2 linked regions of the Homo sapiens genome follow. The protein of the gene in region 1 interacts with the protein of each later gene in a biochemical or structural test. Each region holds a gene or a part of one and is shown on either strand. Other genes may lie near its edges.

Region 1 (7,775 bases):
CTCCCGACCTCAGGTGATCCACCCGCCTCGGCCTCCCAAAGTGCTGGGATTACAAGGGTGAGTTACCGTGCCCGGCCTGGTCTCATTTCTTATCTCCTGAGAGAGGTAGCTGTCCAACATTTTAGCCTCTGAATCTTTTTGTTCAAGCGAAACAGGAAGTATAAACAAATGAAACCAATCAAATGGAGCAGGATGGGGGGGCCCAGAACCCTTTTTTTTTTTTGAGAAAGGGTCTCACTCCGTCACCTGGGCTGGAGTGCAGTGGCACAATCTTGACTCACTGCAACTTCAAGCAATTCTCATGCCTCAGCCTCCTGCGCATAGCTGGAATGATAGGCCACCACGCCCAGCTACCAAAACCTTCTTTCTTGGACTCTCCTCTCCCAAGGATTTCCTAAGGCTTTTAAAAATATTTTGAGGGCGCCGGGCGCGGTGGCTCATGCCTGTAATCCCAGCACTCTGGGAGGCCGAGGCGGGCGGATCACGAGATGAGGAGATCGAGACCACGGAGAAACTCCGTCTCTACCAAAAATACAAAAAATTAGCCGGGCGCGGTGGCGGGCGCCTGTAGTCCCAGCTACTCCAGAGGCTGAGGCAGGAGAATGGCATGAACCCAGGAGGCAGAGCTTGCAGTGAGCTGAGATCGCGTCACTGCACTCCAGCCTGGGCAACAGAGCGAGACTCCGTCTCAAAAAAAAAAAAAAAAATATTTTGAGGGCTAGGCGCGGTGGCTCACGCACTTTGAGAGGCTGAGGCAGGCGGATCATAAGGTCAGGAGATCGAGGCCATCCTAACTAACACGGTGAAAACCTGTCTCTACTAAAAATACAAAAAATTAGCCAGGCATGGTGGCATGTGCCTCTATTCCCAGCTACTTGGAAGGCTGAGGCAGGAGAATCGCTTGAACCCGGGAGGCCGAGGTTGCAGTGAGCCGAGATCGCGCCACTACACTCCAGCCTGGGTGACAGAGCGAGGCTCCATCTCAAAATAAATAAATAAATAAATAAATAAATAAATAAATAAATAAATAAAAATATTTTGAAGCCTGGGGCAGTTGGCTCACACCTGCAATCCCAGTATTTTGGGAGGCTGAGGCAGGAGAATAGCTTGAGGCCGGGAGTTTGACATCAGTCTGGGTAACATAGCAAGACTTCATCTCTACAAAAAAAAAAAAAAAAAAAAAATTAGCCAGGCATGATGGTGTGCACCTGTAGTCCTAGCTACTCAGGAGGCTGAGGCAGGAAGAGCTCTTGAACCCAGGAGTTCCAGGATGTATGTGCCACCACGCCGAGCTAATTTTGTATTTTTAGTAGACAACGGGGTTTCTCCATGTTGGTCAGGCTGGTCTGGAACTCCCAACTTCAGGTGATCCGTCCACCTCAGCCTCCCAAAGTGCTGGGATTACAGGCGTGAGCCACCTCGCCCAGCCTCAACTAGTCTTTTTTTTTTTTTTTTGGGACAGGGTCTCACTCCATCCTCCCAGCTGGAATGCAGTGGCACAATCATGGCTCAATGCAGCCTTGATCTCCCAGGCTCCAGCGATCCTCCCACACCCTCCCAAGTAAGTGGGACTACTGGCTGGGAATACAGGCGCATGCCACCATGCTCAGCTAATATTTTATTTTTTGTAGAGACAGGGTTTTGCCACATTGCCCAGGCTGGTGTTGAACTCCTGAGCTTAAATGATCCTCCCACCTTGGCCTCCCAAAGTGCTGGGATTATAGCCATGAGCTACGTCTTTAAAAACCTATATACGATACTGAAGGGGCTTATAACCTACCAAAATAATAAATAAATAAAAACCTATATATGATAGATTTCAAATACAAATGATCATTTATATTTATCCTCCCAAGCAGGCATAGACAACATTCCACCTTACTACCACCCCAACTAAAAAACAATCTTATGCAATTATATTTCGTTGTTTTTGCGAGTTTTCCACTAGAAAGTTAAGTGGGCCACTGAAAAAAGCAATTTGAAAAAATGAATTTCAAACCAATGAATTTTGTTCGTTGATCTATTGTCAGGTTTGGTTTAGAAAAAGATCACTCTTAATTTTGATTATATGTATTTTAATGATTCATAGGACTCTTATCCTGAATGCTTAGATTTATGAAAGCCAGAAGTATTAACAGTGCAAGTCAGGCCGTCACAATTTGTTCAAGTTTTCTCTTCCTTTATTAACTCAGGTAGTTCCTGAGCATCTACCATATTAAAGGAATTATACTAGATGATTAAAGGATGCAAACAGGAATACAACACAGTCCCTGACTTTTCTCCCTCTACAAAATCAGTAGAAGTGGATTAATATGTAACTCTTCCTCTGAAATAAGGAGTCTATTTCATGGTTGTTCTGTAGTGACAATGCCTCGGGGATCCCACCTTCATCACCTTTGCACCCAACTGTCCATCACTCCTGTGCAGGGGATGCTGCTGGGGAAGAAAACAGGTCAAATGCAGGGAAAATTCATAGTAAGCTGTTACTACTACACTCACGAAAGTATAGTAACCTACTTTACTCACTGAAGTACAGTAACCTACTGTACCCACCAAAGTTTAAAACAAAACAGGACATTTGACAAGGCTGGTGCCTTTAAACAACTTTGCTAAAATGTCAAGGCACTCTTTTTAATTATTAAATAAGAGGAGTAATAGACATTTGTGGCCCACTCCGTCTATGAGCCTCATTCCTGATGATGGGGTAGAGTGAGTTTCAGGGACAAGGTGAAGTGAGGTTCAGGGAGGGGTGAGGCTTAGGGGCTTAAGTGAAGTTCTTTGCATGCATTTCTTAGTAACAAAAATGCTGAGTAATTTACTGGTTACTTTTTTTAGGCTGCAACAAAATGCTCCCATGGAAAATGTCTACGGTAAAATGTCAAGTGTATAGCTTTAAAGCAGAGGACAATGCTTAGCGCACAGTATTTTTGGCAGTATGACCCCACCATTCTCCAAGTTGCCCAGGCTTAAAATGTTGGCACTAGGAAACACATAGCTTATGATGTCTTCCCTACAATTTCACTTTACAGATTAAAAAAAGGGAACCTCCTCTTAGTATAATATTCATATATTCTTTCAATAATTTATTCATTTATCCATCAATATCACCTTTTATGAGACAGTGGTAAGCAACAGAGATATAAAATGAATAACATAGTCCTGCCCTTAACAGTTTGGTTTAGCAAGCATTTATTCAATGTACACCATATACAGTATCAATAACTGCAAAGTGCTAACATATAGATGTGTACCTACATTTTAGGGAAAGCTTTCAAGAATGATGTCAGAGTTGAGCCTTAAGGAATTAGCAGGAGTTTGCTTGATGAAGAGAAAGGAAGGGAAGGGCATATCCAGGTCTGAGAAAAATGCCCAGAGTATGTGGGGGAGGCAGGAGCTGAAAAAGTAGGCAGGAGCTAAATCATAACAGGCCTGTATGACAAACTAAGGAGTTTGCACTTTATTCTGGACAGAATGGGGAACAACTGGAGGATTTTAAGAGGAATGACATGAACAGATGTTTTGTTGTTGTTAGTCTCACCCAAGGATGGACTGGAGATTGGACTGGAAGGAAGCCAGGGCTGAATGCAGACAAACTAATTAGGAGGCTGTTGCTGTCATCTCAATGAGAAATGATGAGAAGAACATAATCTATGTCACAGGCACAGAGGATGGAGAGCAGAACACCTATTTGAGAAATATTCTATAAATAGAAATGATAGGACATGACTATTGATTGGACATGTGTGGGTGGAAAGCCAGAGTCTAAGATTCTTCCCAGCTTCCTCTGTCTAGCTTAGGCAATTATTTGGACAGTGGTACTACTGAGCACGGCACGCACACAGTAGAAGCAGCATATTGACTTTTTTTCTTTAAGGGAGGCAGGGAAAGATGACGAGTTCAATTTTAAATGCTGAATCTGAGACCTGTGGGGAATCCAAGGGGAGAGGTGCATGAGTCAGTTAGCTAACTAGACCTGTGCTTTTTAGCCTCAAGAAATTTACAAGACTATTCCAGAAGCATGTGTACTGACAACCTCACTGCCAAAGGAACAGGCATACCAATTAGAGAAAATGACAATTTTTCATGTTAAAAAAAAAAAAACTGAAAACACAGGGGTTGAGAGTTAATAACGAAACATTATGTTACTCGCCAAACTGACACAGCAGAACAATGTATTTCTCTAGTAAGCTAAATGTAGGGTTTGATGGGTTTCCTCCTGACGACACTTGAAAATAGAGGTGTACCTGGTGTTTAGATCTAGGAATTCCTTTCAGCAGGTTTGAAGAGCAAGAGCTGAGAAATGCGCCCTCCAGTGGCAGTGGAATGAGGGGTGTCTAGTAACCCTTTTTACCACCAAACAAAGCCCTGTAAAGAAATGCAATTTACCGGGATCAGAAAGCCACAATGCTGGTACCAGTAAACCGTCAAACCAAGCGAACCCTCTCAGGCGCCAGGAAGCCTTACCTGTCACGTTGGCCAAAGGAAAATTTCACTTTCGACTCAACAAAATAAGACCTCAGATTTGATAGCTTGCAGTAAGTCCCGCTTGGCGACGATTAAACACCCTGCAAGTCGAAACGCGTAGTCTAATCAAATCCTCTCCAGCCTGCAGGGCCGGGCTTCCACCACGTGGGTGGCTGCGGCCAGCAGGATCAATCCGCGAAGGGTGGGGGTAGGAGGCGTGCCCCTGCGGTGGGAGGCGGGGTCTGCGCAGTGGGTGGGGCTTCGGCGGAACCTAGCTAAGAGGTTCCTCTCGCCTCCGCTCCCCTTTTGCCTTCAACCTTCGAGCCGCCACGTAATGCCACGTCCCCGCGCATGCGCATCTTGGCCGCTGCTGGCGGCTGTTTCCGGGCTTAGAGGGCTGGAGTGGCCGCCGAGTTGGAGGCGGTGGTGGCAGCAGTAGGAGTGTGTAGAGTGCGGGATTGGGGCCCAGGCCCTGCGGAGGGCGGGGGAAGTTGTCTTCTTTTTTTTCCGGAGGGGCCGGTAAACCTGGTGGCTGAACGGCAAGATGAATTTCCTCCGCGGGGTAATGGGGGGTCAGAGTGCCGGACCCCAGCACACAGAAGCCGAGACGGTGAGAGGAGCAGCGGGTCTGGGACTTGGGAAGGGGTCCGGGCAGGGACGGGGACGGAGCACTCGGAGACCCGAAGGTCACCTCCAGCGTCCCACCATGGAGGGGGCATCCACATGCCGCCTCCCCCTTTGCCCTCCTTCCGCTCCTGAAATCCCAGAGTTATTCAATCACGCCCCCAGCTCAGTCCCCATTGCTGCCGTTCGGCCGGACTGACGGCGGCCGCGCCCCGCAGCTCTGTAGGCCCTGAAGCTCGGGCTAGGAGAGTGGTCCGCAGGTGGTACCGCACGGGAAGGGACGGATGCGCGGCCGAGCTGGCCCGAACTGCCTCCCACGCCCCTCGGGGCCGTGGGCCCCTCCCTCTTTCTCTTTCGCTCGTCTGCACTGGCCGAGAGGAGCCTGAAGTCCTGCTCCCTCCCTCGCAGTCTGAAACTGGGGCGTTGGGGAAAACTGCGAGAAGGTTTAAAACCCAGCTGTTGGTGAGAGCATTTGGCTAAGAATAAAACGATATTCTTTGAAGGACAAATCCACCTGCTCCTGTCCCATCAACTGGAAGAGCGGTCGTTCTGCCTGGTGTTATTTGTTCAGATCCGGCTTTTCGGGCTCACCCAAATATATATCATTTGGCAAATGCTACCTTGAACGTAGTAGGGATCTTAAGCGCTCAAACTGCTTTGGGGACACGTCCACCGCTTTCTGCCTGAACTCCTAATGACATGATTTGCGGCGTTATTTAAAAAAAAAAAAAAATGGTTAGCCGCTGAAAACATTATTTAATAGTTGCTTAGATTCTAGGTTTAGAATACACTTATTTTGAAGTTTGGTTAGTGTTTAATGGAATCGAGGGTGTATGCCTTTTTGAAATAAACTTTTTATTTGAGAAGAATTTTAGATCTACATAAAAGAGACTAAGTATAACACTTTAATGGCTAACTTTGTTAATGGGATCCTGAGGGATAATATAGTAGCTTTCATTTGTCAGGCTCTTACCTTGTGCTAGGTTCTGTGCTGAGCTCTTTATATTCCACATTATGCTTTAATCGTTAACTACCCTGCAAGATAGGTGAGAGTATTCTCACCTTAAAAGTCAAAAAATGAGACTGAGAGGGGTGAAGTAGGCCGGACGCGGTGGCTCACGCCTCTAATCCCAGCACTTTGGGAGGCTGAGGCCGGCGGATCACCTGAGGTCGGGAGTTCGAGACCAGCCTGACCAACATGGAGAAACCCCGTCTCTACTAAAAATACAGAATTAGCCGGCCGTGGTGGCACATGCCTGTAATCCCAGCCACTCGGAAGGCTGAGGCAGGAGAATCGCTTGAACTCGGGAGGCGGAGGTTACGGTGAGCAGAGATCGTGCCATTGCACTCTAGCCTGGGCAACAAGAGCGAAACTCTGTCTCAAAAAAAAAAAAAAAAAAAAGGGGTGAAGTAACTTGACCAATGTCACACTGCTAATAATAGAGCCAGGATTCAACCAAGAGGTACCTTACTTCAAAGCCTTCACTTTATTGCTCATGCCTGTATTTCAATACTTTTTGGGAACTTTATATAGTATTACTAAAATTAACTGCAGCTAGTCGCAGTGACACAGGCCTATAATCCCAGCTAAGGGGATGCTAAGCCAGGAGGATCGCTTGAGCCCAGGAGTTTGAGACTAGCCTGGGCAGCATGAAGAGACTCCATCTCAAAAAAAAAAAAAATAACTGCGCAGGTCTGGTTAGAATTGTTTAAAGCATAAGATGAAAGCCGGTAAATCTGTTTCTTTCATTTGAAAATCACTTTTCTGTCTCTCACTGTAACACACGCACACATTTGGCTTCACTCATCCATTCCCACTTGGCAACAAGGCAGCCTGAGCTACCCTACTAGAAGATCATGTTCTGTCTAGATTACCAGAGTCATACCATAATCACAGCCCACCACTTTTTTGTCTGATATTTGTGTTTGTGGCACCAGGTTATGAAATATGGTTTATTACAGCTTGCTTTGTGGAGTTAGACTTTGATTTGAATCCTGGCTTTCCACCCCTGATTGGATTGGATATGTAAGAGATAGCTAATACCCTCTAAGTAAAATGAGGAAAATGCCTGCTTTTTAGGATGTAATGAAGATTAAGTGAAATAAGTAGAAAGAGCCTGGCACTTAGTAGATGTATAATGAGAGGTAATTTTTACTATGTGTGGGTTGAACGAAGAATACCCTTTCCTGTTTTTGTTATTATTGGCCTTGTCACAGTGACTTCTGTAGAAAAGATGGAATAGAATTCACAGTGTATAGGATTTTAAAGCTAGAAAGTCCCAGATAGAGCCTCTTCATTTTATAGTCACAGAGCACTAAAGTAGCTTGCACAAGGTTGAAGAGTTGGAGCTAGAACATTTTGATCTTGCCACTGTGGATGGAACAACATAGTTTTTATATCACAATTTCAAAGTGAAACTTGAGTATCACTTGCGTATGTTGTATATATAAACTGAAAGGGTCCTTTCTTGTTCTTGCCTAACTTTGAGTATGTACATTTAAAATTGGAAAAGTAATTTGTCTTCTATTTTTTCTTTTTAATCACCTCCACAATAAAGCAATTTGCCTTCTGAAAATTATTATTCTGAGGTACAGTATGAATAAAATTTGTTTCACTATTTCGTTCCACCAGGAAGTACAACAGGTAAAAGGGGTCATGGATTACTAATTTAGAAGTATTTATAGAG
Region 2 (7,332 bases), on another chromosome or scaffold:
CCTGCACATCATATATCTTTGCTTTTGTGTACGCTGTTTCCTCTTCCTGGGATGTTTTCCCCACTGGCCTTATCTTCCAAGATTCAGTTTAGGTATCATCTCCTCTTTGAATCTCTCTTGAGTCACCAAACTGGGCTAAGTGTTCCCTCCTTGTCATCCCACAGTTCCCAATTACTGTACCCCACACTCACCACATAGGATTCTAATTATCTGTATAGATGTTTACCTCCCAGTATATTAAAGAGCTTCTATGGTAAGGTGGTGTCTTACTCATCTTTGTATATCAGCCCTTGCATTGTGCTTGACACACAGTTATCAGCTCAATGAATCTATAATGTAGGATGATTTATGGAAGGAGACCAATGGACTAAGTCAAGTGGACTCTGGTGAGCCTAGAAAACGTTCTAGTAAAATGAAGGAGAGGCTGGAGGGTAAGTCATGCCAAGAGAATATCAGCAGTATATATCAATTATCCAAGTGGTTTAGCCATACAAGAAAAAGAAAAAATGGGATATAAGTTAAAAATGCAGTAAGCTGGAGAGTGGCATTTTCTTCTATTTAGAGGAAGGCCTAAATACGTATAAAGACTTAAGAGACTGAGAGGCAGAAGGGAGATCTTCTGGACTTCAATTTCCTTATCTGCCTTATCCACCTCCCAGGGATGCCATGAGACCCAAAGGAAAACAAGACATAGGCATGAAAATTATTTGAGAAATTTTTTACATTACTATCCTCTGATAGATTTTTCTGATAGCTTCCAACTACCCGCAGAATAAAAATCTATAAAGAAAAACCCAATCTGACATTTAAGATTTCCTGGCCAGGCGCAGTGGCTCACGCCTGTAACCCCAGCACTTTGGAGGCCAAAGCGGGTGGATCATCTGAGGTCGGGAGTTCGAGACCAGCCTGACCAACATGGTGAAACCCTGTCTCTACTAAAAATACAAAAATTAGCTGGGCGTGGTGGTGGGTGCCTGTAATCCTAGCTACTCGGGAGGCTGAGGCAGGAGAATTGCTTGAACCCAGGAGGCGGAGGTTGCAGTGAACCAAGATTGCACCATTGCATTCCAGCCTGAGCAACAGAGCGAGACTCCATCTCAAAAAAAAGAAAGAAAGAAAGAAAAAAAAATTCCTATGATCTCGTTCTAACCTTTCTTCGACTACTATTATTGCCCCAAACACCCTGAATCCAGCCAGAGGAGATTCATGTTCTTTCCTTCTGTTTGCCTTTGCTCAAGCTATTCCCTCAGCCTCAAATGCCCTCCTCTTCATCTCTACCAGGCAGACACAATAAACATTTTCAGAGTGGTTAGTATATACAAGACACTGTTAAAATTCTATTGATTCTTGAAGGTCTTATTCATATGCTATTTTGTCCATGAACCGTTCTTGCCCTTCCCACGGAAATGGTACTTTGTATCAATTGTAGCATGTATTCTACTTAATAATGTAGCTTGAGGGTATGATTAGTTCTCCCAACAGACCATGAGAGATATGGGAGGTTTTAGGGCTGTGTCTTGCTTGTGTTCCTATCTCCAGTATCTGTGCATGGTACATTGTAGATGCTCAATTATAGAAAAAGTGAAAAAAATAATTTTAGGAAAAGAATGTACATGGGTGGACAGTCTCTTGGGACACAAAACTGGGTGGGATCCAGGATCCAGGAAAAGAGAAGTATCAACTTGTCCAAGAAAAGAATGTCTCCTGCCTTGGGAGGAATAGTAGATAAGCTTGGAGGATGGAAACGGGATAGCCTATGTGGAGACAGAGAAGTGTCCAAACCCAGTCCCAGCTCAAATGCCACCCCTTCATTAAGTCTCTCCTAAATCTCCTCCTAGAGACGACCCCCAGCTCAGCTCAATCTCTTTGGATTTTCTACCTTCTAGAATGTTTGTCTTGATAAATAAAATTCATAGAAAGCCATTGGTTTGGACTGAGCTCCTGCACTAGGCGCAACAGGCCAAACCAAAATAGAGTCACTCATGCTAAAGTTCCAAGCCACAAAGCCAAAATTAAGCTGCTCATCTGACCTTAGGAGAAATCAGAAGAGAGGGAAAATAGCCATATCCCCATGATAAAGGAAGTCCCTTCTGCCTTAACCAATACAAGTAAAATAACTTTGAAACTTGTTCTTTGTTTCTGCTTTTTTTTTTCAGCCCTTTTCTGTCTATAAAGATAATCTCCTCTGCTCAGCTCATCAGAATACTCATTCTATTTTATAGAATAAGGTGTTGCCTGGTGCTAGAATCGCAAATAGCCAGTTAAGATCTGTAACTGTGTTGTATTAAAGGAGAGAAGGTTAGCACTCCCTTTGACAAGGATGGAAGAGGCCCTTGGGCCTGACAACACGCATACGGTTAAGGCATTACCACCTACTTCGTGGGATCTAACCATCGTTTTTGAAATGGTGCTGGGAAAACTAGCTAGCCATATGTAGAAAGCTGAAACTGGATCCCTTCCTTACACCTTATACAAAAATCAATTCAAGATGGATTAAAGACTTACATGTTAGACCTAAAACCATAAAAACCCTAGAAGAAAACCTAGGCAATACCATTCAGGACATAGGCATGGGCAAGGACTTCATGTCTAAAACACCAAAAGCAATGACAACGAAAGCCAAAATTGACAAATGGGATCTAATTAAACTAAAGAGCTTCTGCACAGCAAAAGAAACTACCATCAGAGTGAACAGGCAACCTACAGAATGGGAGAAAATTTTTGCAATCTACTCATCTGACAAAGAGCTAATATCCAGAATCTACAATGAACTCAAACAAATTTACAAGAAAAAAACAAACAACCCCATCAACAAGTGGGCGAAGGATATGAACAGACACTTCTCAAAAGAAGACATTTATGCAGCCAACAGACACATGAAAAAATGCTCATCATCACTGGCCATCAGAGAAATGCAAATCAAAACCACAATGAGATACCATCTCACACCAGTTAGAATGGCGACCATTAAAAAGTCAGGAAACAACAGCTGCTGGAGAGGATGTGGAGAAATAAGAACACTTTTACACTGTTGGTGGGACTGTTAACTGGTTCAACCATTGTGGAAGACAGTGTGGAGATTTCTCAGGGATCTAGAACTAGAAATACCATTTGACCCAGCCATCCCATTACTGGGTATATACCCAAAGGATTATAAATCATGCTGCTATAAAGACACATTTACATGTATGTTTATTGCAGCACTATTCACAATAGCAAAGACCTGGAACCAACCCAAATGTCCAACAATGACAGACTGGATTAAGAAAATGTGGCATATATACACCATGGAATACTATGCAGCCATAAAAAATGATGAGTTCATGTCCTTTGTAGGGACACGGATGAAGCTGGAAACCAACATTCTCAGCAAACTATCGCAAGGACAAAAAAACAAACATTACATGTTCTCACTCATAGGTGGGAACTGAACGATGAGAACACTTGGACACAGGAAGGGGGACATCACACTTCGGGGCCTGTTGTGGGGTGGGGAGAGGGGGAAGGGATAGCATTAGGAGATATACCTAATGTAAATGACGAGTTAATGGGTGCAGCACACCAACATGGCACATGTATACATATGTAACAACCCTGCACGTTGTGCACATGTACCCTAGAACTTAAAGTATAATAATAAAAAATAATAAAATAAAGAAAAAAAATCTATAACTACATTTCTTGTAATTTTGTCTTTTGAGAGTATACATATCTTATTTCCTTTCCCAGACCAGAACCTCTTTGAGGGCAGGAGGAACCCGGTTTTCCCTACTTTACACATGACACATAATAACCACTCATTCAATGTAGGTTTACTGGATGGATAAATAGGAATGGGGGGTAGATAGGCGGGAGAGTGAGTAGACAAATGCGAAACAGGAAAAGCTTGCGCCAGGAAAAACAGTGAAGAGCGAAATCTCCAGACCCCCGATTAAATGGTTTAAAGTGAAGCCAAGCAAGAACCTCCAGTCCTCTCTGCGGCAGAGAACAGCAGATGATAGCGGCTCGCCTTCAACTTTGCTCTGAGGACCTCTCGTTAGTATCCCGCGATTGTCCTTCCTAACGCCTGACTGAATCCTGAGGCTAGCCTTCAGCGAACATGTACACCGCCTTGCCCTTCACGTGAAGCCGAGCCTGTGACTACACTTATCCTTCCGTCGCCGGCCTCATTTCTCCTTCCCCTTCTCCGATCTCGCAACCACTGCTAGTAAGGCGCGCGTGCGGGCAGCCCTGGCCGGCAGGGGAGGGAGGGTCCTGCGACCGGAAGCCGGAAACCGGAAGGGGGGCTGTGAGGACGTGTTCCGAGGAAGCCAGAGCCGGAGCCGTGGCCTGCGGGGCCGGCGACATGGATCCCCTGTTCCAGCAAACGCACAAGTGAGGGCCGGTCGGGGAGCGGGCAGGGGCTAGACGAGGCGAGGCCAGGTGAGCCTGGCTTCTGGGGCTGAGGCCTCGGACGTCAGCCAGGGTAGAGGCCGAGTTTTTCCGCCAGGGCACTGCTGGGGATGCCTCCGAAGTGCTTAATCCTTGGCGGGACTCCCAGGTCAGCCACAGACAGTGGGTTCAGGCTGGGGCCTGGAGACGTGGGGCAGATGACTCCTGGGGTCTGCAAGTTCGTGACTACCTGCTGGGTAGACTGGGTGACGGGAAACTGGCACCTGCAGGTTATAAAACTTTGTCCAGCACTTGTCAACTCGGTGCTCCTGGTTGGTAGACCTCGAGAGGAGACACGGAGTAGGAGACACGGCCCCTGGCCGTAGGAGTGTACTGTTTAATTGGAGAGTCAGGGCACGTACGGGAAAGTATTTGTATTCTTATTCGATTTATACTAAAGACCACATTTTTATGGTACAAAGAAATTGCTGTCCACGTAGCATTCACTATTATTACTTGTTAATCGTATCTGGTTACAGGTTATCGCTAAGAAAATCAAATTGTAATTTAGTTTCTCATAACTTAAATTCCTTGGTAGTGTCCTTTATTCGCATCGTCCTGCACTTTCGGAATTGCTGAGATACGTAGTTGAGTATTAATGGGGCCATACTTACCCTATTTTTGGGGGCGGGGGGCAGAATTATGATTTTTACCCTGTTTTGGAGGGACGGAATTTTATGATTTTTATTTTTTATTGTAAAATATACACAACATAAGATTTACTGTTTTAACAATTTTTAAGTGTACAATTCAGTGACATTGAGTACATTCACAACTTACATCACTACGATCCATTTCCAGAACTTTTTCATCATCCCAGTGTGCCTGTTAATCAGTAGCACTTCATTTCTTCCTTCCAGAACACCTAGTAACCTCTGTTTTACTTCTCTCTATGAGTTTACCTATTCTAGATACTTAATATAAGTGGAGTCATACAGAATTTGTCCTTTTGTATCTGGCTTATTTCACTTAATGTTTTCAGGGTTCATCTATATTGTAGCCTGTTACCAGAATTTCATTCTGTTTTATGACGGAATAATATTCCGTTTTATGTGTCTACCACATTTTGTTATCCATTCATCTGTTGATGGACACTTGAGTTGTTTCCACCATTGGGCTGTTGAGAATAATACTGCTATGAACTCTGGTGTAGAAGTATCTGTTTTAGTTTCTCTTCTCAATTTTTTGAGGTATATACCTATCCTATTGAGAACTTTCAAACTTATGCTGTAGTTTTGTTGATTAAAACACTTAAAATCACACTCCCAAGGCCTGGAAATGAAATGCCCTGAAGCATGAGGAATAAGAGGGTGATGATCCTCTTTCTCTTTCATTTTCTAAGTTTATGGGTTTCTTTTATTTTGGCGATGAGGTGTTTCATTTGGACAGGCGAAAATACAGAACCTACTTTGTAATGACAGAATTTTCTTTTACACTGGGGAGCCCTATTCTCACATAAACGTTATAGGAAGGGACTTAAAACTAGTCTGTGAGTAATTTAGAGAAAGAATGAAACGAAATTATGTTCATGTTACTAAGAAAGGGCCTATCTTTCACAATAGCAGGGCACAATGGGCATAGTAGTGCCTTGAAGTTAATCTGTTATGTATGGTCTTATCTAGTTAATTTAGTTAAAGGATGTTGCCAAGAAGGCCATGACCCATTTTATATTCAAGAATAACTTTATTTAGAGAGTCTTAGACTACCTGTTTTCAGTGCAGCTAATCACAGAGAAAACTGCATGGCTCAGAAGAGGAATTCTAAATGGTACCCCAAACAAGGTGTGTGGAGTGTAGATGCTCTGTAGGCCTCCAACAATGCACCCTTGGACTCTAGCAGCTTGCCAGTTTTTTCTATTAAGGGCCAGATAGTAAATATTTTAGGCTCTGTGGGCTATACGGTCTCTGTAGTTACTACTCTGCTGTTATATTGGGAAAACAGCCATAGACAATATGTAAACTAATTGATGTACCTGTGTTCCAGTACAATTTTATTTATCAAAACAAGCAGTGGGCCAGCTTTGCCCCACAACTATTAGGCCCTCTGCTACCCCGACACTCATTAATTCATTGAATATTTATTGAGCACCTACTATGTGCTGTGCACCATTCTCAGTGCTGGCAGCACAGCCCTGCCCTCGAGGAGTTTACCTTCTTTTATGCTGCAGTATCTTGTCTATCTTTCCTCTCCAGTGCTGAACCAGGAGTGGGAGTTCTGGTTCTAGACCTCCTTACTTTATTTTTCCTCATCTGTAGAATGATATTATAATTTGGGCTGGTTAAACTGTAAGGCTCCTTTCAGTTCCATGATAACAGAACTGATGACTGAATGACTTTCACAAGAAACACGTGGAGTCCAGTGAGCACCAGCAATGAACTTTCGCAACTGCAGAAATTAGTGATTGTAGCTGAGTTGACACAACAGTAGCTGAACTTATTAATTTTACTGGAACTTTGAACCCAGTTTGTGATTATCTCTTGCCGTGTCACTGAATACATTGAGTACATTGGAATTAGATTGACATATTAAAGTTACTTGAAAACTCCTGAACCTACCTGAACAATGAATGAATGAAAATAATGAATGAATGAAAACAATAAACATTTTACACTTAAATGTTTAATTTAGATGAACTTTATAGAGGAGCTAATAGCCAGGCTTCTATTTTTGAGATCCCAATGGTTGTAAAGGTGACCACATTTGTCCCCTATGTAGTCCAAGATCAGTCTCCTGTCCTGGACCTTATCGTATGTCCAGGACACAAGAAGCACTACATTTAACAAGCTCCCTAGGTGGTTTTGATGAGCAGGTAGGCTTAAGAACTGTTACCTTATCTCAAGACCATTTTTTTTCCTGAACAGCGGAGCTTAAGAACTATTACCTTATCTCAAGACCATGTTT

What was found. Proteins that work in one complex are often made in the same cells at the same time.
Region 2: the proteins of USO1 (region 1) and GOSR2 form a complex in vitro, tested with the Homo sapiens proteins (one study listed by BioGRID).

What each region holds. Positions count from the first base shown.
Region 1 is NC_000004.12:75,719,812-75,727,586, forward strand, and holds the start of USO1 (general vesicular transport factor p115), read left to right. Parts: upstream 1-4,765; 5' UTR 4,766-5,008; coding exon 5,009-5,074; intron 5,075-7,775. UniProt on the Homo sapiens protein: General vesicular transport factor required for intercisternal transport in the Golgi stack; it is required for transcytotic fusion and/or subsequent binding of the vesicles to the target membrane.
Region 2 is NC_000017.11:46,918,848-46,926,179, forward strand, and holds the start of GOSR2 (Golgi SNAP receptor complex member 2), read left to right. Parts: upstream 1-4,312; 5' UTR 4,313-4,345; coding exon 4,346-4,374; exon of another isoform or gene 4,375-4,785; intron 4,786-7,332. UniProt on the Homo sapiens protein: Involved in transport of proteins from the cis/medial-Golgi to the trans-Golgi network.